Linked DNA regions of Homo sapiens: regions 1, 2 and 3 are each linked to region 4. The links come from fine-mapping of genetic effects on gene expression. A gene starts in region 4. Each other region holds a variant in brackets. All regions are shown on one strand. Distances are from middle to middle.

What was found. PIP is the estimated chance that this variant, and not a neighbour inherited with it, causes the effect. A credible set is the group of variants that fine-mapping cannot tell apart.
Region 1: its variant is the best candidate, but not a certain one, in a credible set for the expression of ATP6V1E1 in stomach (GTEx, PIP 0.77).
Region 2: its variant is the best candidate, but not a certain one, in a credible set for the expression of ATP6V1E1 in whole blood (TOPMed, PIP 0.60).
Region 3: its variant is the best candidate, but not a certain one, in a credible set for the expression of ATP6V1E1 in whole blood (TOPMed, PIP 0.81).

The regions. Positions count from the first base shown.
Region 1 is chr22:17,573,548-17,578,395 of GRCh38, forward strand. The region is part of intron 2 of SLC25A18 (solute carrier family 25 member 18); the gene reads left to right. Among named protein-coding and RNA genes, the nearest start is that of SLC25A18, 12 kb to the left of the region's middle. The variant G/C (reference allele first, on the strand shown) is at 2,720.
Region 2 is chr22:17,592,676-17,596,675 of GRCh38, forward strand. ATP6V1E1 (ATPase H+ transporting V1 subunit E1) reads right to left here. Exons shown (of 9, transcript NM_001696.4): 8 at 1,854-1,941; 9 at 1-61. Among named protein-coding and RNA genes, the nearest start is that of SLC25A18, 31 kb to the left of the region's middle. The variant G/T (reference allele first, on the strand shown) is at 2,279.
Region 3 is chr22:17,681,967-17,687,148 of GRCh38, forward strand. BCL2L13 (BCL2 like 13) reads left to right here. Exons shown (of 7, transcript NM_015367.4): 3 at 1,248-1,355. Among named protein-coding and RNA genes, the nearest start is that of BCL2L13, 46 kb to the left of the region's middle. The variant T/C (reference allele first, on the strand shown) is at 2,746.
Region 4 is chr22:17,626,604-17,631,655 of GRCh38, forward strand. It overlaps ATP6V1E1 (ATPase H+ transporting V1 subunit E1), which reads right to left and starts at 2,146. Exons shown (of 9, transcript NM_001696.4): 1 at 2,000-2,146. The coding sequence starts at 2,032. It also overlaps a transcript of BCL2L13 not described here. RefSeq lists enhancers at 1,841-1,990, 2,071-2,160, 2,102-2,271.

The sequences.
Region 1 (4,848 bases), 53 kb before region 4:
GTGTCTACAGCTGAGGTGTTCTTTCTGTCAAGCCGGTGTGCCTGCTGGCTGACTTCCTTCCCACAGTGCTGAGGAGAGAGTTCCCGAAGCCCCACTGACCCCATCTCTCTCCTTCCCTGCAGGCAGCTTCGGTTCCTAACTTGCATCCTTCATTCCTCACCTCAGAGCTGAGACAGCTCCATGGTTCTCTGCGGTTCAGCCCTGGACAGTCACCAAGGCTCTCTACAAAGTTCTCTCCCAGTAACCCTTGTTCTCTACCCCTTCTCCCTAATCCCTCCCTCTCCACTTCATTGTTTTACTCTGAAGGGTCTCCTAATTGGCCTCTCACTGACTCCCCTCAACCCATTCTTCCAGAATAACTGTCCTCATACTACATTCAATGTGGTATTTTCCCCCTTAAAAGCATTCAGTGTGGCTCACGCCTGTAATCCCGACACTTCGGGAGGTGGAGGTGTGCGGATCAGCTGAGCTCAGGAGTTCAAGACCAGTCTGGGCAACATGGCAAAACCCATCTCTACAAAAATTTTTTTTAAAAAAATAGCCTGACATGGTGTCATACACCTATGGTCCCAACTCCTTGGGAGGCTGAGGTGGGAGGATCGCTTGAGCCTGGGAAGCAGAGGTTGCAGTGAGCTGAGATTGCGCCACGGCGCTCCACCCTGGGCAACAGAGCCAGATCTTGTCCCCTGAAAAAAAGAAGTATTCAGTGTTTTGTTACTGCCTACAGGATCACATTTAAAAATTCACTTTTCATGTTGTGAAAATGCCAATCAAAAAGAAAACAAAAAAATTCCCTTTTAGGAGGGCACATGCTGTCTCTAGCCACCCAGGCTCCCCACGTGTGGCCTAACCTGCCTTTGCAGCCTCCTTCCCACAGTTCTGTTCCCTGAACCCTCTGCTCACACCAAGCCCACATCCAGGGTCTGCACGCCCCACCTTCTGCTTTTAAATGCTTCCTTATTCTTTTTTTTTTTTATTTTTTTTTTTGAGATGGAGTCTTGCTCTGTCGCCCAGGCTAGAGTGCAATGGCGTCGTTTCGGCTCACTGCAATCACCACCTCCCGGGTTCAAGCGATTCTCCTGCGTCAGCCTCCCGAGCAGTTGGGATTACAGGCACGTGCCATCACGTCTCGCCTGACTGATTTTTGTGTTTTTAGTAGAGACGGAGTTTCACTATGTTGGCCAGGCTGGTCTCGAACTCCTGACCTCCTGATCCACCCACCCTCGGCCTCCCAGAATGCTGGTATCACAGGCGTGAGCCACTGTGCCTGGCCAATGTTCCCTTTATTATTATTATTATTATTATTTATATATGTATTTTTTGAGATGGAGTCTCGCTCTGTCGCCCAGGCTAGAGTGCAGTGGTGCGATCTCAACTCACTGCAACCTCCGCCTCCCAGGTTCAAGCGATTCTCCTGCCTCAGCCTTCTGAGTACCTGGGATTACAGACATGCATCACCACGCCCAGCTAATTGTTACATTTTTAGTAGAGACCGGGTTTCACCACATTGGCCAGGCTAGTCTCAAACTCGTGACCTCAGGTGATCCACCTGCCTCGGCCTCCCACAGTGCTGGGATTACAGGTGTGAGCCACTGTGCCCCGTGCTCTCTTATTCTTTAAGTCCCACTTCTCCAAGCCAGCCCTTAGTGACTCTGCACACCTCTGAGCCTTTCAGCACGCACTGTCTAAGCCGCTCAGTTGCCATTAAATGGAATGTGAGGGTTTTAAAAATGTATTTATTAAGCACTCTTTGGTTACCAAGTTACAGAACTCTACTATCTTAAGACAATAAGTCACCTCATTAGAAGCATAGTGGGAGACCCTTTTTGTGGTCAAGGTCAGGAATAAAGTGGATCGCTGTGCAGTAATAAGGCAGAAGTCTCTCCCGCCTTGCATCATCTCTGCGGGTCTGCTTTATTTATCTCTGTTTCCTCAATCATGTGACAAGTTTGCTGATGGGCCCCAAGTTTTATCTGTTACAGGTAAAATGCCCCTAAAAGAGGCTGCATACACTTTAAAAATTCCTATGGAAGGGGTTGAATCATTCAGCTTAAGTCAGGTCTCCATCCTTACACAGTGAACAGTAGCCAGGGGATGGAGTTCCAGGGACGTGGCAGTTCCCAGTGCAACTAACCCGGAATAGCAAGGGGGAAAGGGCAAGTCCTAGAATGGGGTATGCTCACCCACTGCATTCCACCTTTTGACACTAAGAACATGCAAACATGCTATTTCCCGTGTATCAAATTTCTTCTTCTCAATATGATTCAGTTATCACATGTAAATTGTGAATGCACTTGTCTTCCCAGTGCACAGTGACACAATGTCATGGCCAGATGCTGCATCCCAAGGCGGTGACAGGGAGCCTCTGTCTTCCAGCTGGCTGCTTTTCTAGTCCTTTCCCACTTTGTTTCCAAAGAGTTCCAGATGTGTTTTCTCATTGTTCTGCATCCCAGCACTTAGATGATCTTTTCTACCCCAATACCCCCTACACCCTCTAAATTCCTTCAGAAAAGAAGGTAGAGGAGGCCGGGCATGGTGGCTCATGCCTGTAATCCCAGCACTTTGGGAGGCTGAGGCGGGCAGATCAGGAGGTGAGGAGATGGAGACCATCTTGGCCAACATGGTGAAACCCCATCTCTACTAAAAATACAAAAATTAGCCATTCGTGGTGGTGTGAGCCTGTAGTCCCAGCTACTCAGGAGGCTGAGGCAGGAGAATA[G/C]CTTGAACCCAGGAGGCGGAGGTTACACAGTGAGCCAAGATCGCACCACTGCACTCCAGCCTGGACGACAGAGTGAGACTCCGTCTCAAAAAAAAAAAGAAAAAAAAAAGAAGTCTATTCCCATCAGTGCCGGAACCAGTAGGAATTCAATTCTGTGGAGGGCAAGGCCTTGCTTTGTTCCCCAGCTGTGTCCCTGCTGCTTAGAACTGCAAATGGCATACAGTAATCACTCAACAAATATCTGTAGCGTGACTAACACTTAGGCTTGTGGGTTGCCTTGGGGGGCAGTTATCGGCCCTGGTGCCAGGTTTGGGGTTTTCATGGTGCTATGACTCCTTTCATACCTTGCCTGGCTAATGGTTTCGCCTTTGTTGCCTGTTACTAATGCATTTACTGCTGCCAGGAATCTTGTCAAGTCATAGGCTTTGATTAGCATAGGCCTGCGAAAGGGAACTTCCGGGGCTGGAACTGCAGCAGCTTGGTACAGCCTCAGGGTAGGGAGGCTCACCCTCCAGCCAAGTGCTCTCCGTGGGTGGAAACATTATCACATCTGTTAGCTATGCTATGGAGTGGCCCTGGGATTAGGGTGTCCCTAATTTCTCTGGCATCTGTTAAATACCCCTATTCCAGTAGCCCAGGCTGGAGTGCAGTGGCGTGATCTTGGCTCACTGCAACCTCCGCCTCCTGGGTTCAAGCGATTCTCCTGCCTCAGCCTCCCAGGTAGCTGGGATTATAGGTGCCCATCACCGCACCTGGCTAATTTTTTTGGGGTGGGGGACAGAGTCTCACTGTGTCACCCAGGCTGGAGTGCAGTGGCACCATCTCGGCTCACTGCAAGCTCCGCCTCCCGGGTTCACGCCATTCTCCTACCTCAGACTCCCAAGTAGCTGGGACGACAGGCGCCCACCACCACACCCGGCCAATTTTTTGTATTTTTAGTAGAGACGGGGTTTCACCATGTTAGCCAGGATGGTCTCGATCTCCTGGCCCTGTGATCCGCCCGCCTCAGCCTCCCAAAGTGCTGGGATTATAGGCGTGAGCCTCCAAGCCCAGCTAATTTTTTGTATTTTTAGTAGAGATGGGGTTTCTCCATGTTGGTCAGGCTGTTCTCAAACTCCTGACGTCAGGTGATCCGCCCGCCTCAGCCTCCCAAAGTGCTGAGATTATAGGTGTGAGCCACCGCACCCGGCCCACAGTTTCTAAAGTAGTAATTTAGTTCTAGAAACAGCAGGGAATATGATTATAAGAGCAGTCACAATGTTCTCAATTATTGGACTCCCTGGCTTCAGACAGAAACAGTTGTGTCCTGTCTATTTTTTTTTTTTTTTTTTTGAGATGGAGGCTCGCTGTGTCACCCAGGCTGGAGTGCAGTGGTGCGATCTCGGCTCCCTGCAAGTTCTGCCTCCCAGGTTCATGCCATTCTCCTGCCTCAGCCTCCTGAGTAGCTGGGACTACATGCGCACACCACCATTCCCCGCTAATTTTTGTGTTTTTAGTAGAGATGGAGTTTCACTATGTTGGCCAGGCTGGTCTCGAACTCCTGACCTTGTGATCCTCCCGCCACCATGCCCAGCCAATTTTTATATTTTTAGTAGAGACGGGGTTTCACCATGTTGCCCAGACTGGTCTCGAACTCCTGACCTCAGGTGATCTGCCGTCCTCAGCCTTCCAAAGTGTTGGGATTACAGGCATGAGCCACTGCGCCCTGCTTCTTTTTTTTTTTTTCTTCTTTGGGGGGCATAGGGTTTCGCTCTGTTGCCCAGGCTGGAGTGTAGTGGTGTGATCTTGACTCACTGCAACCTCCACCTCCTGGCCTCAAATAATCCTCCCATCTCAGCCTCCTGAGTAGCTGGGCCACCATGGCCAGCTAATTTTTTGTATTTTTGTAAAGACGGGGTTTCACTATGTTGCCCAGGCTGGTCTTGAACTCCTGGGCTCAGGCGATCCACCCGCCTCAGCCTCCCAAAGTGTTGGAATTACAGGCGTGAGCCACTGTTCCCGGCCAAACTTAAGTCCTTGAGAACTAGAATGTGTATTTTGTTCACTACTATGTCACCAGACCTGGAGCAGTGCCCAGCACTCAGCAAATGTCTTCCTGAATGGATTAGTGTAGCACCAAGAGAAAGACT
Region 2 (4,000 bases), 34 kb before region 4:
AGTCCAAAAACTTCCTGTTGGCATTTGCACCAAACAAGGCTCCCCGGACTTCTGGCATCATCTGTGGAGAGAAAGTGTAATAAATACGCAATGTCAGCTGAAGAAGTTGTAGAGCGCTGCACATCTTTTTTTTTTTTTTTTTTTTGAGACGGAGTCTCGCTCTGTCGCCCAGGCTGGAGTGCAGTGGCGCATCTCCGCTCATTGCAAGCTCACGCCATTCTCCTGCCTCAGCCTCCCAAGTAGATGGGACTACAGGTGCTTGCCACCATGCCTGGCTAATTTTTTTGTATTTTTAGTAGAGACGGGGTTTCACCATGTTAGCCGGGATGGTCTCGATCTCCTGACCTCGTGATCCACCCGCCTCGGCCTCCCACAGTGCTGGGATTACAGGCGTGAGCCACCAAGCCTGGCCAGAGTGCTGCACATCTTAACCACAGGTGGAAAGCCATGAACCTCTATGTGGCTGGGAAGGACTCACAAAGCCACGCACATCAAAGCCACCCTCTCCTTCCCTGAAGCAAGTAACACATTCCTTGGTGAGAAACTTAACTCATCCCAAATCTGGGGTTCAGACTGCTTACAAAAGGGACACATTAAAAAAAAACAAAACAAAAAAAAACCTAAAGTCACTACTATCTCAGACTTAACTCATCATAATCATCTCACCACAATATGCTGGGTCACCTACACTCTTTCTTCAACAAACATTTACTGAGTGCCTACTATGGCCACAGCAGCTGCAAAGAACACTTCCAATGCCAGCTTAGGCTGGAAGCACTTGCTACAGCCACTGATGAATCCTTAGGAGAACTTAACCCTGGACTTCCAAGGCTCGGCTGTCCAACAGGGCAGTCCTAGCTACAGATGGTTATTGTGTGCTGAGAAACTGAATTTTTCGGTTTAATTAAATATCCGTAAGTGAGTAGTGGCTATGATACTGGATGGGACAGTGGCTACTAGGAAACAATGTTCTGAGGTTTAAGTTACCAGAATATGAAAAAATCAAGGTGAAAGTGCTTTAGTTATAAGACAAGTATCTGCATAAACAGTAAACTGCATATCTAGGTCAGGGAATAACTAGGTTGGCAGCCACAGCAATAGACTCCCACTAGAAGTCTAGAAGATGCCCAGCATTTTAGAACAAATGGAATTTTCCTGGCTTGTTTCCTAGAGTTCCTGTGTACAAATCTGGAAACATCTGAAAAGCCAGCAGCTTTATGATAATTCCTTTAAATAAGTATTTGTGTCTGAGCACGGTGGCTCACACCTGTAATCCCAGCACTTTGGGAGGCCAAGGCGGGTGGATCACCTGAGGTCAGGAATTTGATAACAGCCTGGCCAACATGGTGAAACCCCGTCTCTACTAAAAATACAAAATTAGCCGGGTGTGGTGGCAGGTGCCTGTAATCCCAGCTACTCGGGAGGCTGAAGCAGGAGAATCGCTTGAACCTGGGAGGTGGAAGTTGCAGTGAGCCAAGACTGCACTCCAGCCTGCGCAAAAAAGAGTGAAACTCCATCTCAAAAAAGCAAAACAAAACAAAAAAACACAAGTATTTGCTTTAGTTCCCATCACTCCTGTTAGAGAAAGAACTTGTCAGCACCTTACATGTAGTAAAATGTACATATTCGAATCCTAGGTCAACAAAACACTTGTTCTGACCCCAAATTCACCCTCATGTAAATGTTACCACCTCAGCAAATGCTACTACATGCCCAATTCTCATTCTTTTTGAGAAAATGTCCAAAACTGGAAAGACAGCAACAAATCCCAAATACCAGTGAATGGACACGTGTTCTCTGTCCCACTTCAAAGTAACAGCAGACCAACTACCAAGAAGTACCCCCACACTCACCTGCTGGGCTATGAGATCCAGCCGGCTTTCCAGGGTGTTGGAAACCTTTATTTTACGATCTCCATTATAGATCTCAACTCCACCAGCTCTGCAAAAAAAAAAGCACAGGAAATAATCATTTTCAAAGACTTGAGAAAGATACATGGTACCCTTTACTCCCGCAGAGGAATGCCCTTGTCTTGGTGTGTAGACTGCGCAACCTAAGCAACAGGCTTGAAAGGAACTGAAAAAGCTTCTGAAGATGTAACGCACAGTTGGTTTCAGGAAACCCCAGTCCCCGCCTAGATGTCCATTATATGAAACAGCGTAGTATTTGCATACAACCATCACACATCCTCCCCTATATTGCAAATCATGTCTACAGCACTTAAAATAGCTAATACGATGTAAATGGTTGTTATACCGTAGTGTTTAGGGAGTGAAAA[G/T]AAAAAGTTGGTTGAATTCACAGGTGTGGACCCCAAAGATACAGAGAACTGACTGTATTCATCTCAATAACTGTCATTTACCAAGTGACACTATGTGTCAATTTGTTTTGTTTTTTTTGAGACTCGCTCTGTTGCCCAGGCAGGAGTGCAATGGTGCGATCTTGGCTCACTGCAACCTCTGCCTCCCGAGTTCAAGCAATTCTCCTGCGTCAGCCTCCCCAGTAGCTGGGATTACAGGCACCTGCCATCACGCCTGGCTAATTTTTGTATTGTTGTAGAGACGGGGTTTCACCATGTTGGCCAGGCTGGTCTTGAACTCCTGACCTCAGGTGATCCGCCCACCTCTGCCTCCACAAGTGTTGGGATTACAGGAGTGAGTCACCGCGCCCAGCCTGTGTCAATTTGATTTTATGTTACAAAACCTGTTTTAATTATCACAGCCAGCCCTCCCCAACAAAATGAAAAAGAGAGGATTTCATCTCAGTTTGCAAATCACTCAATCCTCATCTGAATGTTTTCTTAAGCCCAATCCTGCTCATTACTGATGAGGCCCTATCACGACTGCATGTGTGTCTGATAAAAGATGCCACTGCTGGCCGGGCGTGGTAGCTCACCCCTGTAATCCCAGCACTTTGGGAGGCCGAGGTGCTCCCAAACTCAAGTTTGAGGCCAGCCTGGCCAACATGGCGAAAGCCTGTCTCCACTAAAAATACAAAAATTAGCTGGGCATGGTGGGGCGTGCCTGTAGTCCCAGCTACTTGAGAGACTGAGGCAGGAGAATTGCTTGAACCCAGGAGGCAGAGGTTGCAGCAAGCCGAGATCACACCACTGCACTCCAGCTTGGGTGACAGAAAGAGACCCTTACTCAAAATACAACAACAACAACAAAAAAAGAGGCTGGGTGCGGTGGCTCACGCCTGTAATCCCAGCTCTTTGAGAGGCCGAGGTGGGCAGATCACGACATCAGGAGATTGAGACAATCCTGGCTAACAAGGTGAAACCCCGTCTCTACTAAAAATACAAAAAAAATTAGCGAGGCATGGTGGCGGGTGCCTGTAGTCCCAGCTAATCGGGAGGCTAAGGCAGGAGAATGGTGTGAACCTGGGAGGTGGAGCTTGCAGTGAGCCGAGGTCGTGCCACTGCACTCCAGCCTGGGTGAGAGTGAGACTCTGTCTCAAAAAATAAATAAATAAATAAATAAGATAAAAAATGCTATGAGGTTAGTGCTAATACGTCAATTTACAGATAAGGGAATCAGGGCTCACTACTATGGTTTGAGTCTGTTCCCTCAGAAACTAATGGTGAAATTTGATTCTCAATGTGGCAGTGTTGGGAGGTGGAGCATAGTAGGAGGTGTTCAGGGCTCAAGGGCAGATCCCGAGGCAATGAACTGTGGCGAGGGCCTGGATTCTAGCTCCGGCAGGACTCGACTGTGAGCAGAGGGTGGGCTGGTATGATAGGGAGTCTGGTTCCCTAGGCTCTCTGGCCTCCTCTCTCGCCATGTGGTCTCTATGCACACACCCACTCCCCTTCCACCTTCTGCCATGAGTGGAAGCAGCCTGAGGCCCTCACCAGATGCAGCTGTCCAATCTTGAACTTTCCAGCCATGAGAATCATGAACCAAATAAACCTCTTTTCTCCATGAATTACCCAGCCTCGGGTATTCTGTTATAGCAACACTAAATGGACGACACCACTCAATGAAACTGAATAAACGAGTCC
Region 3 (5,182 bases), 55 kb after region 4:
CATACATACGTACGTACATGTACATACAAAGTGCTTAGTATAGTGCCCCCAGCACTTGATATTAGCCATTATTGTGTATTGTTATCACTAAAACTAACTTGGGTGAAATTGGACTGTCAAATGACAGAGGTACTGCTTTCAGGCTTCAGCAGTATCTTTTTTTGTACCTTAGTACTTGCAAAGATATATAATTATCTTGCTGTATTTAGAAAACTTAGTAGCAAAATAGAATTAACCAGTAATAAGCATGAGAGACTGGTGATGAGCATAACTCATAAATCTAATGTGATTGGTACAAAGAAATCGTTATGCCCACAGTGGTGGAATTTTAGCCTCAGTTGTGTGCTTTGTGGACTTAAGCAGCAGTCAACTAACTGTTGTGGGCAGGGTTGGGGGAAGAAAAGAAAGAAAATTACAAAGCATGTATAAAATGCTAGAAGTATATCATCTAAAAATGTGTCCAAAAGTGAGATACAATTAGGGATCTATATAATTTGAAGTGGGGGGAATGGACATCTCCCACCACCACTGAAATATTAATAGCATGAATTCTTTTTGTTTTTATCATATTCCATCTTCATACTTTTTAAAAAGGATACATTGTCTACAAAAAGAGAGGACTGGCCCGACTTATTGATACATCTTTCCCAACCTCCTCTTGAGTTAATGTGTTTCTGAAGATTCAGCTCAATTTCCCTGTTTCTGGCAGAAACATCTGGAAAGGTGGAGACTTACTCACTCTCAATCCATAGGCCCAAATATTTCTACTAAAGGTTGTTTTTGATTTTTGTTTTTTAATTATTGCAAAAAGGATTTCCTCCCGTCCCTAATTTTGATAATGAATTTTGATTTTGCATTTTTTGGCTTAACAAATTGCTATTGTAGGGCTGGGTGCAGTGGCTTACGCCTGAAATCCCAGCACTTTGGGAGGCCGAGGCAGGCGGATCACAAGGTCAGGAGTTCGAGACCAGCCTGGCCAACATAGTGAAACCTGTCTCTACTAAAAATACAAAAAAATTAGCCAGGCGTGGTGGCAGGCGCCTATAATCCCAGTTACTTGGGAGGCTGAGGCAGGAGAATCGCTTGAACCTAGGAGGCAGAGGTTGCAGTGAGCGGAGATCATGCCATTGCACTCCAGCCCCAGTGACAGTGCGAGACTCCGTCTCAAAAAAAAAAAAAAAAGTGCTATTATATTCTAATGGTTTCTCTCTCCCTCTTTCAATAATAACCTTTTTTGTTGCTTTCAGGGGTTCAACTAGATATAGCTTCACAATCTCTGGATCAAGAAATTTTATTAAAAGTTAAAACTGAAATTGAAGAAGAGCTAAAATCTCTGGACAAAGAAATTTCTGAAGGTCTGTTTATTCTTATTTTTCTAGTTAATAAGCAGATTGTGTTTGTTATGGTTTACTGTTGGTTTAATTTGATTTTTACAGTGGGGTATTCTCAACAGTTAACAACTTACACCAATTATACATTGGTAGAAGTTTATAAGGGTAAAACTAGAAGGTAGCCTTTTTTCTTTCCTGGAGGATATGTTGATGGAAGTTCCCCAACTATACCTAACAGGTTAGATGTAGCAGTTTCTCATGTTAAGTATCGGATAAATGATCATGTTAAGGTTCTTTCCATTCACTATGGTTTGATTTGTATTTAGTATTACCTTTATAAGTAATAACGACATAAAAAGGAAAAAGTAAGCATACGCTTTTATTTTTGCATACATATATACTATAGATAACTGTAATTATAATGTACATTCAACTTTATAGCCATTTTATTTTGCACTTAACATTACAACATAAACTTTAAAAATAGTTACTCTACTAACTGCGTGAAATTTCATTCACTGAATAAATGTTTTTACTCAGTCATTCCATTATTATTATTATTATTATTATTATTATTATTATTATTACTATTTCAGAGACAGGGTCTTGCTCTGTTGCCCAGGCTGGAGTGCAGTAGTGAGCACTGGGATTACAGGTGTAAGCCACCATGCCTGGCCTGTTCCCTTGTTATTGAGGGGAGCATTTGGATTATTATTCCTTTTTTCACTGGACGACGACTACACAGCATTTGCATTATTTCCGGTTTTGTCTTCCATAGGTAATGCTGCACTGAACATCTTACCCAATGATATAAATATATTTTTACAGCTTTATTGAGATATATTTTACATACCATAAAATTCACCCATTTAAAAGGTCCAGTTCAGTCTGGGCACAGGGACTCATGCCTGTAATTCTAGCACTGTGGGAGGCCAAGGCCTCAGGAGGGTTGCTTGAGCCCCTGAGTTCAAAACCACACTGGGCAACATAGGGAGACCATGTCTCTATTTATTAAATAAATAATAATAATAATAAAGTACAATTCAGTGGTTGTAGTGTATTCACAGAATTTATCACCATGATCTAAATTTAGAACACTTTCGGTTCTCCTTAAAGAAACACAATACACATTAGCAGCCACTTCCCATTCCCACTAGCCCCAGGCCCCAACCCCACCCCACACCAGGCACCCACTGATCTCCATTCTGTTTTTATTGATTTGCCTATTCTGGAAATATACATAAATAGAATAGTTCACTATGTGGTGGTGGTGGTGGTGTTTTGAGATGCAGTTTCGCTCTCATTGCCCAGGCTGGAGTGCAGTGGCACCATCTCGGCCCACCACAACCTCCATCTCCCAGGTTCAAATGATTCTCCTGTCTCAGCCTCCTGAGTAGCCAGGATTACAGGTATG[T/C]GCCACCAAACCTGGCTAATTTTTTGTATTTTTTTTTTTTTTGACAGAGTCTGGCTCTTTGCCCAGGCTGGAGTGCGGTGGCGGGATCTTGGCTCACTGCAAGCTCCGCCTCCTGGGTTCAGGCCATTCTCCTGCCTCAGCCTCCCGAGTAGCTGGGACTACAGGCGCCTGCCACCACACCCGACTAATTTTTTGTATTTTTAGTAGAGACGGGGTTTCAGCGTGTTAGCCAGGATGGTCTCGTTGATCTCCTGACCTTGTTTTCTGCCCGCCTTGGCCTCCCAAAGTGCTGGGATTACAGGCATGAGCCACCACGCCCGGCCTGTAATTTTTTGTACGTTTAATAGAGACAAGGTTTCTCCATGTTGCTCAGGCTGGTCTTGAACTCCTGACCTCAGGTGATCCGCCCACCTCGGTCTCCCAAAGTGCTGGGATTAAAGGCGTGATCCACTGCGCCTGGCCACTATGTGGTCTTTTGTGACTGGCATTTTTTACTTAGCATAATGTATTTTTGTTGTTGTTGCTGTTTTTTAAGACATCGCCTTGCTCTGTTGCACAGGCTGGCATGCAGTGGCATGATCTGGGCTCACTGCAACCTCCGACTTTAAGGTTCAAGCAATTCTCCAGCCTCAGCCTCTTGAATAGCTGGGATTACAGGTACCCACCACCACGCCCAGCTAATTTTTGTTTTTAGTAGAGACGGGGTTTCACCATATTGGCCAGGCTGGTCTCCAACTCCTGACCTCAAATGATCCACCTGTCTCGGCCTCCCAGAGTGCTGGGATTACAGGCGTGAACAACTGCACCTGGCCGACTTAGCATAATGTTTTCAAGGGTCATCCATGTTGTAGCATGTATCAGTACTTCATTACTTTTTACAGTCAAATAATATTCCACTGTGTGGATGTGTCATATTTTGTTTATTCATTCATTAGTTAATGGAAATTTAGGTTGTTTCTACTTGTTTACTATTATGTATAATGCTGCTGTGAATATTCTTGTGCAAGTTTTTGTGTGGACATATATTGCCCAATAATTTTTTCTTTTTCTTTTTTTTTTTTTTTTTTTTTTTTTTTTTGAGACAAAGTCTCGCTCTGTTGCCCAGGCTGGAGTGCAGTGGCGGGATCTCGACTCACTGCAAGCTCCGCCTCCCAGCTTCACGCCATTCTCCTGCCTCAGCCTCCTGAGTAGCTGGAGCTACAGTGCCCACCACCACACCCAGCTACTCTTTTGGTAATTTTTAGTAGAGACGGGGTTTCACCGTGTTAGCCAGGATGTTCTTGATCTCCTGACCTCATGACCCGCCCACCTCAGCCTCCCAAAGTGCTGGGATTACAGGCGTGAGCCACCGTACCCAGCCTGCCCAATAATTTTTAATGATCAAAATTATAAATTATGTTCATAACTCATGTTCCTCGTTAGTAGAGAAAAAACACAGATAGAAATGTACAAATAATCCCGAGACCAGGTGCGGTGCCTGTAGTCCCAGCACTTTGGGAGGCTGAAGTGGGTGGATCACTTGAGGCCAGGAGTTTGAGATGACCCCAGCCAACATGGTGAAACCCTGCCTCTATAAAAATACAAAAAAATTAGCCAGGCATGGTGGTGCACACCTGTAATTCCAGCTACCTCGGAGGCTAAGGCATGAGAATCTCTTGAACCCAGGAAGCATAGGTTGTAGTGAGCCAAGATCATGCCACTGTACTCCAGGCTGGGTGACAGAGTGAGACCATTTAAAAAAAATGAAATGTACAAATAATCCTGAAACCTAATGTTAGTCTTGTCTTTTATATTTCTTTTTTTTTCTTTTTTTTTTTGAGACAGAGTCTCGCTCTGTCACCCAGGCTGGAGTGCAGTGGTGCGATCTCAGTTCACTGCAACCTCCGCCTCCCGAGTTTAAGTGATTCTCCTGCCTCAGCCTCCTGAGTAGCTGGGATTATAGGCGCCCGCCACCATGCCTGGCTAATTTTTGTATTTTTAGTAGAGGTGGGGTTTCACCACGTTGGTCAGGCTGGTCTCGATCTCCTGACCTTGTGATCTACCCGCCTCGGCCTCCCAAAGTGCTGGGATTACCGGTGTGAAACACTGTGCCCGACCATTATATTTCTTTATCAACATTTTGAAATGATTAAATTTCTGATTCTCTTCATGTATATTCTGGTAACAGCACTGCTGCATAGTAAAATGGGCAAAAGGTAGAAAGAAGAAGAGAGTAACAAAAGGTTTAAAATACGTTCACTTATTGAACCCCATATTATCTAAGTTAGACCATTAAAATGGATGCTCTCCAGCTTGCTCAAACAACAAAGTATTTGTGAACTTTGCAGCCATTTGCATCTTTCTCGGAGGCAAGCACTTTATAAAGAAACACATACTTTATAGTAAAATTTGCAGCCTTATAGGAGTAAGCGTTAGATTAATGCAATAAATACTTAAT
Region 4 (5,052 bases):
TCACCATAACCTCCACCTCCCGGGTTCAAGAAATTCTCCTGCCTCAGCCTCCTAGTAGTTGGGATTACAGGCATATGCCAGCACGCCCCACTAATTTTGTATTTTTAGTAGAGACAGGGTTTTGCCACGTTGGCCAGGCTGGTCTGGAACTCCTGACCGCAGGTGATATGCCCACCTCGGCCTTCCAAAGTGCTGGGATTACAGGCATGAGCAACCATGCCCAGACAGCCTGGCTTATTTTTTAAGAAAAAATTTTTTAGAGATAAGGTCTATGTTGCCCAGGCTGGTCTTGAACTCCTGGGATCAAGCGATCCTCCCACCTCAGCCTCCCAAAGTGCTGGGGGCTACAGGTGTGAGCCACCACACCTGGCGTGTATTTGTGTTTATTAATATTAAAATTTTTTGAGATGGAGTCTCACTCTGTCACCCAGGCTGGAGTGCAGTGGCACAATCTTGGCTCACTGCAACCTCCGCCTGCCGGGTTCAAGCGATTCTCCTGCCTCTGCCTCCTGAGTAGCTGGGACTACAGGCGCACCCCACTAGGCCCAGACAATCTTTTTTTTTTTATTTTTTTGAGAGGGAGTCTCGCTCTGCCGCCCAGGGTCGCTCGGCCTCCCGGGTTCACGCCATTCTCCTGCCTCAGCCTCCCGAGTAGCTGGGACTACAGGCGCCCGCCACCATGCCCGGCTAATTTTTTGTATTTTTAATAGAGATGGGGTTTCACCATGCTGGCCAGGCTCGTCTCGAACTCCTGACCTCAGGTGATCCGCCCTCCTCAGCCTCCCAAAGTGCTGGTATTACAGACGTGAGCCACCATGCCCGGCCCCAGCCTGTATCTCACAAATGTTAACACACACATTAGTGGGAGACCAATCATTACAATCCATTATGATAGAGGGGACTTCCCCAAAATGAAGATTAACAGTACATACAGGCCTGGCGCGTTGGCTCATGCCTGTAATCCCAGCACTTTGGGAGGCCCAGGTGGGAAGATCACCTGAGGTCAGGAGTTCAAGACCAGCCAGGCCAATATGGTGAGACCCTGCCTCTACTAAAAAAAATACAAAAATTAGCCGGGCTTGGGGCGCGAGTCTGTAATCCCAGCTTCTAGGGAGGCTGAGGCAGGAGAATCACTTGAACCCGGGGCGGAGGTTGCAGTGAGCCGAGATCGCGCCCTTGCACTCCAGCCTGGGCGACAGAGTGAGACTCCGTCTCAAAAAAAAAAAAAAGAAAAAAAGAAAAAAACACAGTTCATAAAGTGAACGACCTTGTCAAAACACTGGTTGGAAGCAGGTCTCTTCCCTCCGCACTGTTTCCTATCATATAGCCTTAAGCATTTCCCTCAGGGTTAAAAAAAAAAAAAGTGACAAGGCTGGTTTGTTTTTTTTTTTTCTTTTTCCAGAGGGAGTCTCGCCCTGTCGCCCATGCTGGAGTGCAAAGGCGCGATCTCGGCTAACTGCAACCTCCGCCTCCGGGTTCAGCTTCCCGAGTAGCTGGGATTACAGGCGCGCGCCACCACGTCCGGCTAATTTTCTATTTTTAGTAGAGACCGGGGTTTCACCATTTTGGCCAGGCTAGTCTCGGACTCCTGACCTCAGGTGATCCGGCCGCCTCGGCCTCCCAAAATACTGGGATTACAGGCGTGAGCCACTGCCCCTGGCCACAAGGCTGTTTTCAATCCTTGCACAGATCTCTGTCCGACTAGGCACAGTGAATACCCTTGGAAAACAGGGAATGCTGAGGTGGGAGGCAAAGAGCCAGGGCGTTCAAGAAGGCAGCGCGCAGGCAAGCGGGCAGTGCCCAAGACCCGAGCAAAAGTCACATGAGCTGCGGGGCAAATCTCCGTCCTCAGGCCGACCTCTTGGATCTGGTGACTTGGAGCAAGGGACCTTCCTGCGGCATCTGGGCGGCTCAAGGCCCGCGGCCTTCCCTAGGCGGGCTCCAGCCCACTCCCCGGGACTGCCGCCGCGGCTTCGTAAGACCCAACCAAGCCCCTCACCTGCTTTTGCACGTCAGCATCGCTGAGAGCCATGGCGAGAGCAATGCTAGGCCGGTGAACAGTAGGCTCGAGTTTAGGTTTGAAAGGTGAGGTGAGAGAAATCGGCAAAGGGAACCCCTGCGCAGATCTCGGGTTCCTTTACTTTATAACCGCGGGTTCCGGTTCCTGCCAGGTGACTGCACAGTTCATCCTCATGACCCTTCTCAGCCAATGGGAAGAGAGCGACGCCCAGGAAGTCCCGCCCTGTCCCGGCCTGTGGGCGCGTCCTCGGGTCCTTCTACGTCGCTGACTCGTGACCTGACCGGTATTTTTTTCCTAAACTGGGATCTTGGGTAGGAGGAAGAAAAGATAAGGAGTTCCTCTATCTGAAATTAGTCGGGCTGTTTTGAGGAGTACTGGTTAGGTATATTGGAGAATGTGCCTTTATTGGAATTTTTCGCATAATTACACAGGGTTATGGGCTTAGGGGTACATGATTGTTGGCCGGGCGTGGTGGCTCACGCCTGCAATCCGGAGACTTTGGGAGACCAAGGCGGGTGTATCGCTTGACCTCAAGTTCGAGACCAGGCTGGACAACATAGAGGAACCCCGTCTCTACCAAAAGAAAAAAAAAAGGGGGATACATGATTTCTGACTATTCATGTCAACCTTGATTACCTGAATAAAGTGTAGGGTTTGTAGGTTTCTCCACTCTGAAGTTACCTTTTTTAACCCCCTTTCCATACTGTAGTCTTAGGAAGGAAGCCACTATACAAAGCCCACACCTAGGGAGTGGGAAGCTATGCTCAACTTCCTTATTAGGGTGGAGCAGCTACATAATTTATTTGGAACTTTTCTGAGATAGCCTATATATTTTTCAAAAGCCTTCCCAGGTCCCATTTAGAGGAATATTAGGACAGAAATCCCCCCAGGCTCATTTGTTTTTATTTGGATTTACCTCAAGCCCGTTTTTTTCCCCAAAATCCCAAAGGCAAAAACTTTTGAAAATTCCTTTATCTTTAGGATAGACTGACTCCTAATAGTAGAATAAGAGGTCAAATGGTACACCCACTTTTTTCTTTTTACTGTGCTATGGTTACCCACCATTTTTATTAGCTTTTTATCTTGAAGAAATTTGAGATATAGTAACTTGTAAGAATACTGCATTGACCTCCCTTCACCTAGATTCAACAATTGTTAACATTTTGCTACATGTACATTAACACTTTATTTTCATACACACACACACACACACACACACACACACTTCCTATTTTAGTGTGTCATAAGAACGAGGATGTAGCAAATTCAGGAAATTTAGTTTACTAGGCTGAACATTAATTTCCTTTGTCCCGGGCCAGGCGCGGTGTCTCACGCCTGTAATCCCACCACTTTGGGAGGCTGAGGTGGGCAGATCACCTGAGGTCGGGATTTCGAGACCAGCCTGACCAACATGGAGAAACCCCAGTCTCTACTAAAAATACAAAATTAACAGGCGTGGTGGTGTGTGCCTGTAATCCCAGCCACTGGAGAGGCTGAGGCAGGAGAATTGCTTCAACCCAGGAGCAGAGGTTGCGGTGAGCCAAGATCGTGCCACTGCACTCCAGCCTGGGCAATAAGAGTGAGACTCCGTCTCAAAAAAACAAAAAAAAAAAAAACAAATTCCTTTGTCCCATCAATCCATCAATGTACTTTATAACCCTTTCTTTTTTTTTTGAGACAGAGTCTCACTCTGTCGCCCAGGCTGCAGTGCAACGGCATGGTGTCAGCTCACTACAACCTCTGCCTCCCGGGATCAAGTGATTCTCCTCCCTCAGCCTCCCAAGCAGCTGGGATTACAGGTGCCTGCCACCATGCATGGCTAATTTTTGTATTTTTAGTAGAGATGAGGTTTCACTGTGTTGGCCAGGCTGGTCTTGAACTGCTGACCTCGTGATCCACCTGCCTCGGCCTCCGAGAGTGCTGGGATTACAGGTGTGAGCCACTGCACCCGGCCTTCTTTTTCTTTTCTTTTTTTTTTTTTTTTTGAGATGGAGTCTCGCTCTGTTGCCCAGGCTAGAGTGCAGTGGCAGAATCTCGGCTCACCACAACCTCCGCCTCCCGGGTTCAATTGATTCTCCTGCCTCAGCCTCCCCAGTAGCTGAGATTACAGGCATCTGCCACCACGCCCAGCTAATTTTTGCATTTTTAGTAGAGATGGGGTTTCAACACATTGGCCAGGGTGGTCTTGAACTCCCGACCTCAGGTGATCTGCCTGCCTCCACCTCCCAAAGTGCTGGGATTACAGACGTGAGCCACCGCGCCCAGCCATAACCTTTTTTTAATAACCTTACTTTTTAACCTTTTATAACCTTCTTATAACCTTACTTTATAACCTTTATAACCTGGATTGGATCCAGGGTCACTTACTGCATTAGTGATCATGTCTTTTTAGTCTCCTTTAATATGGAAGAGTTTCCTCAGACTTATCTTTCTTGATAGTGACATTTTGAAGAATATAGGCCAGTTGTAGAAAATCACTCAATTTTTTTTTTTTTTGAGACAGAAGAGTGTCGCTCATGCTGGAGTGCAGTGGTGCAAACTCGGCTCACTGCAACCTCCACCTCCTGGGTTCAAGAGATTTTCCTGCCTCAGCCTCTCCAGTAGCTGGGATTACAAGCGCCCGCCACCACGCCCCGCTAATTTTTTCTTTTTGGTAGAAACAGGGTTTTGCCACATTGGCCAGGCTGTTCTTGGAACTCCTGAGCTCAGATGATCTGCCTGCCTTGGCATCCCAAAGTGCTGGGATGACAGGTGTGAGCCACCACGCCCAGCCTCAATTGGGTTTTGACAGTTTCCTCATAATTAGATTCAGGTTACGCATTATAGCAGGAGTACTACATGTGTGATATTGTGTCCTCTTTGCAACACATCAGAAAGTACATGATGTCCGTTTGTCCCTTTTTTTCAATTTTATTTTTAAAATTGAGACAGAGTCCTACAGTGTTTGTCAGGCTAGTCTCGAACTCCTGGGCTCAGGGGATCCTCCCACCTCAGCTCTTTGTCCTTTTAGTAGGAATGGTACGTGTGTGTAT